2 separate regions of the Homo sapiens genome follow, and region 2 is linked to region 1. A link means that fine-mapping ties the variant in region 1 to the expression of a gene that starts in the linked region. Tissue or cell type: whole blood. Region 1 holds a variant in brackets; the other region holds the start of a gene. All regions are shown on one strand. Distances are from middle to middle.

What was found. PIP is the estimated chance that this variant, and not a neighbour inherited with it, causes the effect.
Region 2: it holds the start of SPCS2, and the variant in region 1 is fine-mapped to the expression of SPCS2 in whole blood (INTERVAL, PIP above 0.99).

Annotation. Positions count from the first base shown.
Region 1 is chr11:74,725,414-74,730,562 of GRCh38, reverse strand. The region is part of intron 1 of CHRDL2 (chordin like 2); the gene reads left to right. Among named protein-coding and RNA genes, the nearest start is that of CHRDL2, 3.4 kb to the left of the region's middle. The variant CAAA/A (reference allele first, on the strand shown) is at 2,032.
Region 2 is chr11:74,946,557-74,951,705 of GRCh38, reverse strand. SPCS2 (signal peptidase complex subunit 2) reads right to left here and starts at 2,440. Exons shown (of 5, transcript NM_014752.3): 1 at 2,307-2,440. The coding sequence starts at 2,420. It overlaps XRRA1 (X-ray radiation resistance associated 1), which reads left to right and starts at 2,615. Exons shown (of 19, transcript NM_001378157.1): 1 at 2,615-2,778. RefSeq lists enhancers at 2,186-2,235, 1,538-2,392, 2,316-2,535, 2,666-2,725, 2,846-2,895 and 1 more.

The sequences.
Region 1 (5,149 bases):
GGGCAGGGCACTGTGTTTTGGGTTGGGGGAGGACTTACTGTTCCTAGGAGGGAGTCGGGTATGTCTGGCTACAGGTAAGGAGTGTGATGGAGAAGAAAAGGCTTTTTGCCTTTGGAAAGAGCCATTGGACAGAAATGAGAGGTAATTAGGATAACCTTCCCATTCTTTTCTCTCTTTTGATCCTCGCAACTCTCCAGTGAGGTGGGTATTATCATTCGCACTTTACAGATGAGAAAACTTAGGCTGAGCAAGGAGGAACTTGCTAAAACTTACAGAGCGGGTAAGCCATCCAAAGCCAGAACTCTAGTTCCAGATCCCATGCTTTATTCCCTGCCTCACATTGTCTAGAAGGAACCCTGAATTTGCAGTGTGAGACTCTGGGAGGCGGCAGGGCACAGTGAGATAGACCAGCGTCTTCACCATCCCAGCCCCGCTGAATGCCAGCTGCTGGGAGGCCGTCACAGAGTGCACCTCTCTGACCCTGGGTTTCCTAATCTATAAAGCGGAAGTAAAAATCCTAGGAGAGTTGATAGGATTAAATTAGAGAAAAGAGGTAAAGCAGCTAGCACAAGACTGGTGCTTGATAGCTTCCAAAAAAAATCAGTTCCCAATTATGCTTTTCCACATAGATACAGTGTAACATCAAACAGGTTACATCATCAATCTGAGCCTCAGTTTCCTCACTGCGCCCACAATAGGCTGGTGGTCCCCCCTCCCCATGCCCAGCCAATCTCTTAGAATGCTGTGAGGATGGAAAACCAAACCACATTCTCTTAATCAGAAGAAAGGAGCTTCATTCAAGCAGTGGGTTTCTCCAGGACATACATGGCACAGCCTGGGATTAAGACCCTGCGTTCCCAACTCCTAGTCTGGTGCTCTTTCCTCTCCCCAGCTCAGCTCCTCCATCTATGCCTTTCTTTTGCACGTGACATTCTGGAGCTGGTAGTGCTGGACTTTGTTACGGTCTTGTTTCTGCTCATGAGAGCAGGCTGAGTGTCTCTGGCCTGCCAGCAGCATGAGACTCACATAAGTCTTTCCATTACATAGAACAAGTAATGGAATTAGCTCAGTGTTGTATTCAAATCCTGGCCGTGCCCCTTAGAGCTGTGTGACTTTTTGTAAGTCATAACTTCTCTGAGCCTCAATTTCCTAATCTGTCTAAGAGAGATACTAATCCAGAACTTGCAGGGTTCTTGGGAGGATTAAAGGAGGTAACGGATTAAAGTGCCCAGCACAATGCTGTGTACTTAATAAATGTCTCTTCCGCTTTCTTGAACCCTGAGGGTTTCCTCCTAACACCTGCCTCCTATTTCTTAAAAGAGACTTTGCACAGGATGCCCTCCATGCCTGCCTCCCATCCACTTGACACCTTGTTCTTAGTCCCTGCAATTTTTTCTCCAGATATCATTGCCCTTGATGCATCTTGGAAAGATGTCCTAGAACCAGACTGTTATCCTACCCACACCCTGCTTCTTTGCTTCCCATATCTTGTCAGCCTTTCATGGCCTTGCCTAGGTCACACCTCTTCAAGCAAACTCTCCCCGGTGACTTGATCCACTCTGATCTCCCTCGTCTGTGCCTCCCTGGCCTTCAGCTCTGTACCTCTCAGCAGGTCCTGCCAGTATTCCATCTTCCCTACAGCCTTGTAAATACAGATCTCCAGACATGTGAGAAAAAGACTTGGAGCCAACTCATTAGGGTGAGGTGGACTGGCACTCATTGGAGAATGTTAAGATTCCTGGATGTTAGAGCTGGTGAAACTATCAAAAACCATCTGCTTCTACCCATCAATATACCTATACTTAGAGTTAAATTGAAGCCCAGAAGAGAAGAGTGACTTGCCCAAGGTCACACAGCAAATTTATTAAAGAAAAGAACAAAAGCCAGGCACAGTGGTACACACCTGTAGTTCCAGTCACCAGCTACTTGGGAGGCTGAGAGGGAGAGGAACCCTTGAGCTCAGGAGTTCAAGGCTAGCCTGGGGAACATGGTGAGACCTCATCTCTTAAAAAACAACAACAACAACAACAA[CAAA/A]AAACAGAACAGACCTGGGTCCTGGACCCTGATTTGTCACTTATTGGCTGTGTGAGTTGGGACAGACCACTTCTTTATCTGAGCCTCATTTTGTTTGGTGCTGACAGCCTATGAATCTAGAAAGGATCCTATAGTCATTTGCCAAGATGCTATTTGAAGGTCTCTTACAAAGGTCCTCATCTTAGTTTAAGTGAGATCTCAAGCCTGTTGTGGGTCAGAAATCTGGTGATATCTTAGGTGCTTTCAGAAACAGTGCTAACGGATGGAAATGTTCAAGTCTGTGTGGTATCAGGCTCCTGAGGTGTCGGAGCCCTGAAGAATGCCAAGGGCCTGTGAACACAGGTAACAGTTTGCTCCTCAGGCTATTCAAACAAAAAGTATTCTCTCTTTGGTTCTATTTCCAGCCATAGATTGAGCCCTAATCCCAATACAGACTAAGTTGCAATTCCAGCCACAAGCCAAGCCCTAGTCCTCCAACCTTGGCCACAGGTTGAACACCAATTCCACCCCTATACAAGACCCCTTACCCAGGCTGGGTCCCTGACCTGGTTACTGACCAGTACTGGTCCCAGCCCCAGGCTGAGCCACAGACATGTGTGATGCTGGTCACTCTAGACACTCGGCTCTTTGTGGATGAGTGTCCACCAGAGGCCTACTATCTTCTTACCTCCCTCTTCAGTGCTTTCTGCCCTACTCCTCTCAGCTCCTCTCTTTGGTTCTCTTCCCTAATTGTCCCTTGTAGGTGTCTAGTATGCTCTGCTTTCTCTTCCCTCCCTCCATCCAATCCTGCTTTCAGGAGAGTCAGTTACCAAGTAAAAACATGGGGCTGGGTGCAGTGGCTCACGCCTGTAATCTCAGCACTTTGAAAGGCCGAGGTGGATGGATTACTTGAGCCCAGGAGTTTGAGACCAGCCTGAGAAACATAGCAAGACCCTGTCTCTAGAAAAAATAAAGAAATTAGCCTGGCATGGTGGCACATATCTGTGGTCCCAGCTATTCGGCAGGCTGAGGTGGAAGGATTGCTTGAGCCCAGAAGATGGGGGCTGCAGTGAGCTGTGATTGCACCACTGCACTCCAACCTGGGTATCACAGTGAGACCCTGCTGAGAAAAAAACAATCCATGTATTTTTTTTCTTCAAGGGTTTTGTTTATTATGGGAATCGAAGCTTTCGTTCCCAGGTGATGAATTCCGGACCCTAGACGCAGGCATGGGACAGGAAGGGAGCTCCGCTGGTAGGATGTGATGTGGAGGGCAAACCTGGAATCAGAAAGTCATGGATCCAGCCCTGGCTGTGCCATCAATTCCAACTGTGACCCTGGACAGGTTGCCTTTCTCTACCTCTCAGTTTTCTCCCCTGTAAAGTGAGATGGTTGGACTCAAGTGGATGATTATTGAGGACCATTCTAGTTTTAACACTTCGTAATTCTAAGTCTCCAAAACCCAAAGGTGTGGTTGCCTTGATTCCGAGTCCACTCTGGCCTTTGGAATAGGGATGTGGGAGGGTGGTACTCCTGCCCTGCCAGGGAGGAGTGGACAGGCAGACCCTCAGACACCAGAAAAAAGTGCCTGGATGGCCTGGGGCAGTGAAGGTAGTGGGAGACCGGCCAGAGGGGACCTGCTTGTCTGTCCAGCTTAGTCGCATCCCCATCTACCTGTGCAGGTGTGCATGAGGCAGTGGGGAGCACCTAAGTGAAGGCCTGAAGTCCGGCTCCAGGCTGACTTCTCTCTGGATCTCTGACTGGGCCGTTCTGCACCTCTCCTCTCCCACCAGCAGAGGTCTCTGCCTCACTCACTGGCGCACAGGCTGCTGAGCCTGAGCCCGGCAACAGCTGCGCAGTTGCTCCAGCTGTTGCACCTGTTCCAGGACTGGCCTCTCAAGTTCCCCCAGCCGCCAACCATGGCGCCGGACTCTGGGAGAGGGACCTTGAATCCTTCATATTCTCAAAGAAAAGGACTGGCATGACAGCGGTGCCCCTGGGAGGTGTAGTACAGAGATCATTTCAGGCGTCCCCCTTCCTCTGTCCAGGACCCCATCCTCATTCTTGTACTCAGGAGTTCTTTTTTGTGTCTCGCCAGAAGCCTTCTGTTTACAAATTAAGGCCATTTCTTCTAGTCCTGCCTAGTAGGGGATGGGTGTCCCTGTAAGCATTCTCTCCACATCTGACGACTGGCATTGAAGATTGTGCTGGAGTGAATCAAGCTTAGTCAAGTCCTGATCTCTCTCTGGGACTCAATTTCCCACAAAGGAAACAGGGGACTGGATGTCTCTGAGTCCCTAGCTTTCTACGATTCTATGAATCTAAGCATATATGTCCAAGGCAGAAAAAAATGTGAACAGTCCCCACCCTGTTTCCTGCCCTTTAACAGGTAACAGAGCTGCCTTTCCTGGTTTGATAGTTCTCTCCCTAGAGGCCCTTCTATGTTCCTGTATGTCTGTCATGTGCCAGAGGGAAAAGTCAGGTTCAGAGAAATGCAGTTCCTTTCTCCGGGTTGCACAGCTCAGCCACTGAGGAGCTGAGGCTTTTCTTCTGATTTCCTTAAGAGGCCTCTCCCACCGGGTGCCAGAGCCCAGAGCAGAGCTTATGTCTCAGAGGGGAGCAAGTTTGTTTGTGTGAAGAGGGGATTATAAATAAATAGAGAAAGTATGGCTGTGTGGGTGTGAGGGAAGAGATGTAAACGTTCTACATTCCTGGGCAGCCTGGCTCACTCAGGTTTCCTGAGTTCTTGCAGCCTGGGGACAGGCCAGCCACAATTCCAGACCTCTCTCCTCTCACCCCGGCCCCTCCTGATGCCCTTTCCAAGGTCTTGACCAGCCTCCCCTCCAGCCCAGAAGCTTCTTTCTAGTTGTCTTTTCTGCTTCCTATTGGGGAAGAATTCTCAACCGCACTAACCCCTTCTAACTGACCACCATAAAAAAACCTTTTATCACAGCATGAGAGTTTCAAGCCAGACTGTGGGATGAGCTTGGAACTTGGATAGAGACAGTTTGGAAATTTTGACTTATGCGTGAAGATCATGGAATCACTCATCCCCTTAGCTACTCTGGGCTCCTGACCTTTTTGTACATGTTGTCATTTGGTTTGGCCAGTGGTTTGAGCATTCAGATGGCAGGGA
Region 2 (5,149 bases), 220 kb before region 1:
CCCGAGTAGGTGGGATTACAGGCATGCACCACCACACTTCGCTAATTTTGTATTTTTAGTAGAGATGGGGTTTCTCCATCTTGGTCTGGCTGGTCTTGAACTTCCGACCTCAGGTGATCCGCCTGCCTTGGCCTCTCAAAGTGCTGGGTTTACAGGTGTGAGCCACTGCGCCCGGCCGAGGCTCTTACTCTTATCAATAAGCTCGCAGGGTTCACTCTATTTCTCTCATTTGAACTTCCGTAACAAGTACACACTTGAGCGAATATACCATATACTTCCTTAAATAGATTCAATTACCCCATCTCCTATATTTGGCTATTCTGAGTGCTCTCTGACAGTAGGATTCTTGATTTACTCCTCCACCATCACACATCTGTACTGGACACTACAGGTAATGGAGATCATTAATGTGTACTGTCTTACTTGGTTCTTCCCAAAACCCTGTGATCTAGGTGCCAGAGATTCCAAAATTCCAAATGAAGAAAGGTTAAGTGACTTGCCAATCTTCATACTGTTAGCAAGTAGCAGAAATACTTCAAAGCTGAAATCTTATGATCCCCACATCCGGGTTCTTTCAATAACACAATGGTGCCATATACACTATTCCATAATAATAGTATTCTATACTGCCTTAGCAGAATGCCCATACTTAATGTTTGCTGATGATGATCCAAGTGCAAGGAAGAGCAAGAGCAGTTAGTGGGGCAGGTAAGCACAGGCTATGAGGTGCTTACCTAGCAAGAGGGAAGGATTTGTGTACACAAATGACCATCAATTCCCCATACTCTCACATGTCTTGAAGCAATTTACCATCCCAACCTCCAGAATATGTTTCTGTATCTTAAGGTTTGAGTGTGAGGCCAGGTGCATGGTGACTTATGCCTGTAATCCCAGCACTTTGGGGAGCCAAGGTGGGAGGATCTCTTGAGGCCCAGGAATTTGAGACCAGCCAGGGCAACACAGTAAGACCCTGACTCTACAGAAAAGTTAAAAGCAAAAAAATTAGTCAGGCATAGTGGTGCACATTTGCAGTCCCAGCTACTCAGGAAGCTGGGGTGGGAAGATCACCTAAGCTTAAGAGTTCAAGGCCGCAGTGAGCTAAGATCCATTCTGGGCAATGGAGCGTGACCCCTCTCACAAGAGAAGAGTGTGAGAACCATGTCTTTCAAAACCAATGACACTCAAAAAGACAAGTAAAAAGACCTGGATCTTAACCCCTCAACATAATCATGTTTTCATTTCTTAAGCACCTACCATGTGTTATGCACAGGGAAGTCTGAAAGCTGTTTTCAATTATATTCAAAAATTCTGCTTACTATATTAAAGACACCATGCTTAACAATTCTCATCAAACCAGCCCAGGGCCCTACAATGAGAGAACTGGAAGGGAATTTAGAGTTAAGTCCCTCATTTTAAGGCTAAATCTCTCACTTTGCAGATGAGAAAACAGATATAGAGAGAGCAAGCATATTTCAAGGTCACAAAGCTAATTAGAGGCAAAATCAACACCAGGACGTTGTTCTCCGTGCAACTGTTTCTTCCAAGATGCTGTGCAAAGAGCAAGAAAGGCCAACCCAGGGACAGTTTTCCTTTTTTTCTTTTCTTTTAAACCCTTGTTGCTAGGACTGCAGTTAAAAAAAATTTTTTTGGATGAGCAGAGGGAGGAAAGGGGCAAGCGTGAGCGGGCAGCAGTGCACTTGGTAGCAAAGAGGGAGGTGGAGGGAAGAGAGGAGAGGGCGGGGAAAAACAACAGGAAAAAAAGAAAAATCTTAAAGGCTTCTTGTCAGCCCAGTAGAACAGTCAATACTCAAATATTTTCAGTATTCGCCTATCATGATAAAACGCCTAAAAACTTCAGTAAGCAAAAGGACAAGAAGCACTTTGGAATCTGTAGCAGCACGCAAGGGTGATGGTGGTAGAGAGTTTGGGGGATACTGATTCTTTAATCTTTGGGCTTCGGTTTTCCGTGTCTGTGAAATGGGCACTGACAACAGTGCACCCAGCCCCCCAGGAGAAAAGAGATGGACACGATTAAATATAGGAAAAATCAAATTACCGAAAAAGGTGTGGCGACCAGGACCAGAACACTTGCGAGAAAAGAAGAAGTTCTAAAGAGGACCGGGTCCAGGTTTGAAGTGTGATGAGGGCAAGGGCAGGCTCCAAGCGTGCGTAGGGTTGTGATAGTGGTCACACAAGGGCTCCCCTCAAAAGGCCGTAGAAAATAAGGGAGACCGGGATGGGAAGGTTGGCTCGCCGCCTCCCAGGCCTCCCCAGGATTCAACTGTTCCCAAGAACCGGCTCCTCACCTTATCCAACAAGCCGCTACGGCCACTTCCTGTCCCGCAGTTGGAAGCACCACCAGCCCCACTACAGCCTCCGCTACCACCGCTTCTCCCGCCCTGTACAGCTGCCGCCGCCATCTTGTCCGCCTCTGCGTCTCCCTCCCCTCCGACTTGTCTGAAGCCGATTGGCTGGAGCTGACAGCGTGACGCGCCGCGCGGAGTCAATCGGGATCCGTAGTTTGGGTCTTGCTGGCGCGAGGTAGTCAGAGGACGTGGCCGCGGGGCTTGCTGGGACTTGAGGTTAGACGTCCCGGCCGTCGGTTGCCGCCTACACTGTCTGCCGTCGCGTCGCAGTTACTAAGGCGTGGGGAAGATAGCGGCAGGCACCGCAGTGGAGCGGCTCCGAGATCCCCGGGGGGCTCGCAGGCGCGCATCCCTCCTGACTGGGACGTCGCCTCCGCAGACCCCTCGGAGGCTGAAGCGACGCCGGAGGCAGGTGCGACTGAAACTTAGTTTTCGAATTCGAGTCTTTCTCCGGCCCAGGTGTGGAGTTTCCAAAGGAGTGGGCAGGAGCTTGTCCTTCATCCTTTTCTAGCCCGGTTGTGGCACTTACCGATTATTCTCTCAAGCAGCTGTCATTTTAGCTGTTTGTAATGTTTTCGTGTTAACGGAGAACTCGCGTTTACTGAGTGCCTACAGTCTGCCAGGCAGTATCCTATGTGCACTTCCAGCCATCCTCTCTCTCACTGAGTCCCACAACAGCCCTGTTAGATGAGGAGGAAACTAAAGAACCTACCCAAAGCCAGATAGCATGTATCTGAACTCGGTTTTCAAGCCGGCATTTAAAAAAAATCAAAACCAATATATATCCCTTCTGACACTCTGCTTTTACGGTTTTAGGATGTAATAGTATTCTAGATTTTAATTATTTTTTTCACAAATGTATATTGAGCACCAATATTGTACTAACGGATACAGGGGATCAAGATAGACCTGGTTGCTACTCTGGTGGACTACTACTCCATGACAGAGTTATCAAATAGCAGTATTGTATTATACCATGCTCTATTACGTTGTATTTTAATTAATTTTTTTCACAAATGTATATTGAGCACCAATATTGTACTAACGGATACAGGGGATCAAGATAGACCTGGTTGCTACTCTGGTGGAACTACTACTCCATGACAGAGTTATCAAATAGCAGTATTGTATTATACCATGCTCTATTACGTTGTATTGTTTTTTAATTCCTATATATCCCCCATAAGCGTCTAAAGAATTAAACAAATATTTTTGAGTTTCTTACTATGTAACAGGCACTATTCTAGTCACCAGGGATATATCCCTGAATAAAACAGACAAAAACTTGTCTTGGGGAAGCCAAAATTCATGTGAAAATAATTATCTCGGCCGGGCGTGGGGGCTCATGGTTGTAATCCCCGCCAAGGCAGGCGGATCACCTGAGGTCAGGAGTTAAAGACCAGCCTGGCCAACATGGTGAAACCCCGTCTCTACTAAAAATACAAAAATGAGCCGGGCGTGGTAGCGGGCACCTGTAATCCCAGCTACTTGGGAGGCTGAGGCAGGAGAATTGCTTGAACCGGGGAGGCGGAGGTTGCAGTGAGCCGAGATCAGAAAGAAAAGAAAATAATTATCACTAAATAACTAAATTATTACTAAAAAGAAAATAAATATCACTAAATAGCAATAACATCAGATGATATTTCATTACCTCTGTGAAGCAATCCGTGGACACTAGTCAGATCCCCTGTAGCTTGTTGTTGCAGTTTATCTTTTACAACTTCTCATTTTTCTTTTATTTAAAATAAAGTGAGATGATACAGCATTGCCCTAGTCACTTTTTATTTTATTTTTTATTTTTTGAGACAGAGTCTCACTCTGTCACCCAGGCTGGAGTGCAGTGGTGGGATCTTGGCTCACTGCAACCTCTGCCTCCTGGGTTCAAGCAGTTCTTGTGCCTCAGCCTCCCAAGCTGTAGTCTTTGTAGCTGGGACTACAGGCACATGCCACCACACCTGGCTAATTTTTATATTTTTAGTAGAGACAGGATTTCGCCGTGTTGGACAGCCTAGTCTTGAACTCATGACCTCAAGTGATCCGTCTGCTTCGGCCTCCCAAAGTGCTGGGATTACAGGCATGAACCACCACACCAGGCCAACTTCTCATCTTTCAAGATCCAGCTTTAATGTCACCTACCCTGTGAAACTATTTCTGATACTTGCTTCTTCTTTCTTCACCCACTGCATGAAGTGCTCCTGTGGCATTTTGTTCATGGGTTGGGTTAGTTCAATTAACAATCATTGAGACTCTTCCTTCAGTAGGCCAGGTCCTGTGTGAGATGCAGGATAAAGAGATAAGTACAGGCTCACGCCTGTAATCCCAGCACTTTGGGAGGCCGAGGCGGGCGGATCACGAGGTCAGGAGATCAAGACCATCATGGCTAACATGTTGAAACCCCGTCTCTACTAAAAATACAAAAAATTACCCAGGCATGGTGGCGGGCGCCTGTAGTCCCAGCTTCTAGGGAGGCTGAGGCAGGAGAATGGCGTGAGCCCGGGAGGCGGAGCTTGCAGTGAGCTGAGATAGCGACACTGCACTCCAGCCTGGGTGACAGAGCAAGACTCCGTCTCAAAAAAAAAAAAAAAGAAAAAGAGGTAAGTAGGACCCAGGCCTGACCTGACCTTGGAGATACTCACAGCCTGTAGTGAGGTGGGGAACAAACAAGGAAGCAGGCATTATAATACAGTGTGGTATAGTGCCTGTATTAGTCCATTTTCACACTGCTATAAAGAACTGCTCAAGACTGGGTAATTTATAAAGGAAAGAGGTTTAATTGACTCACG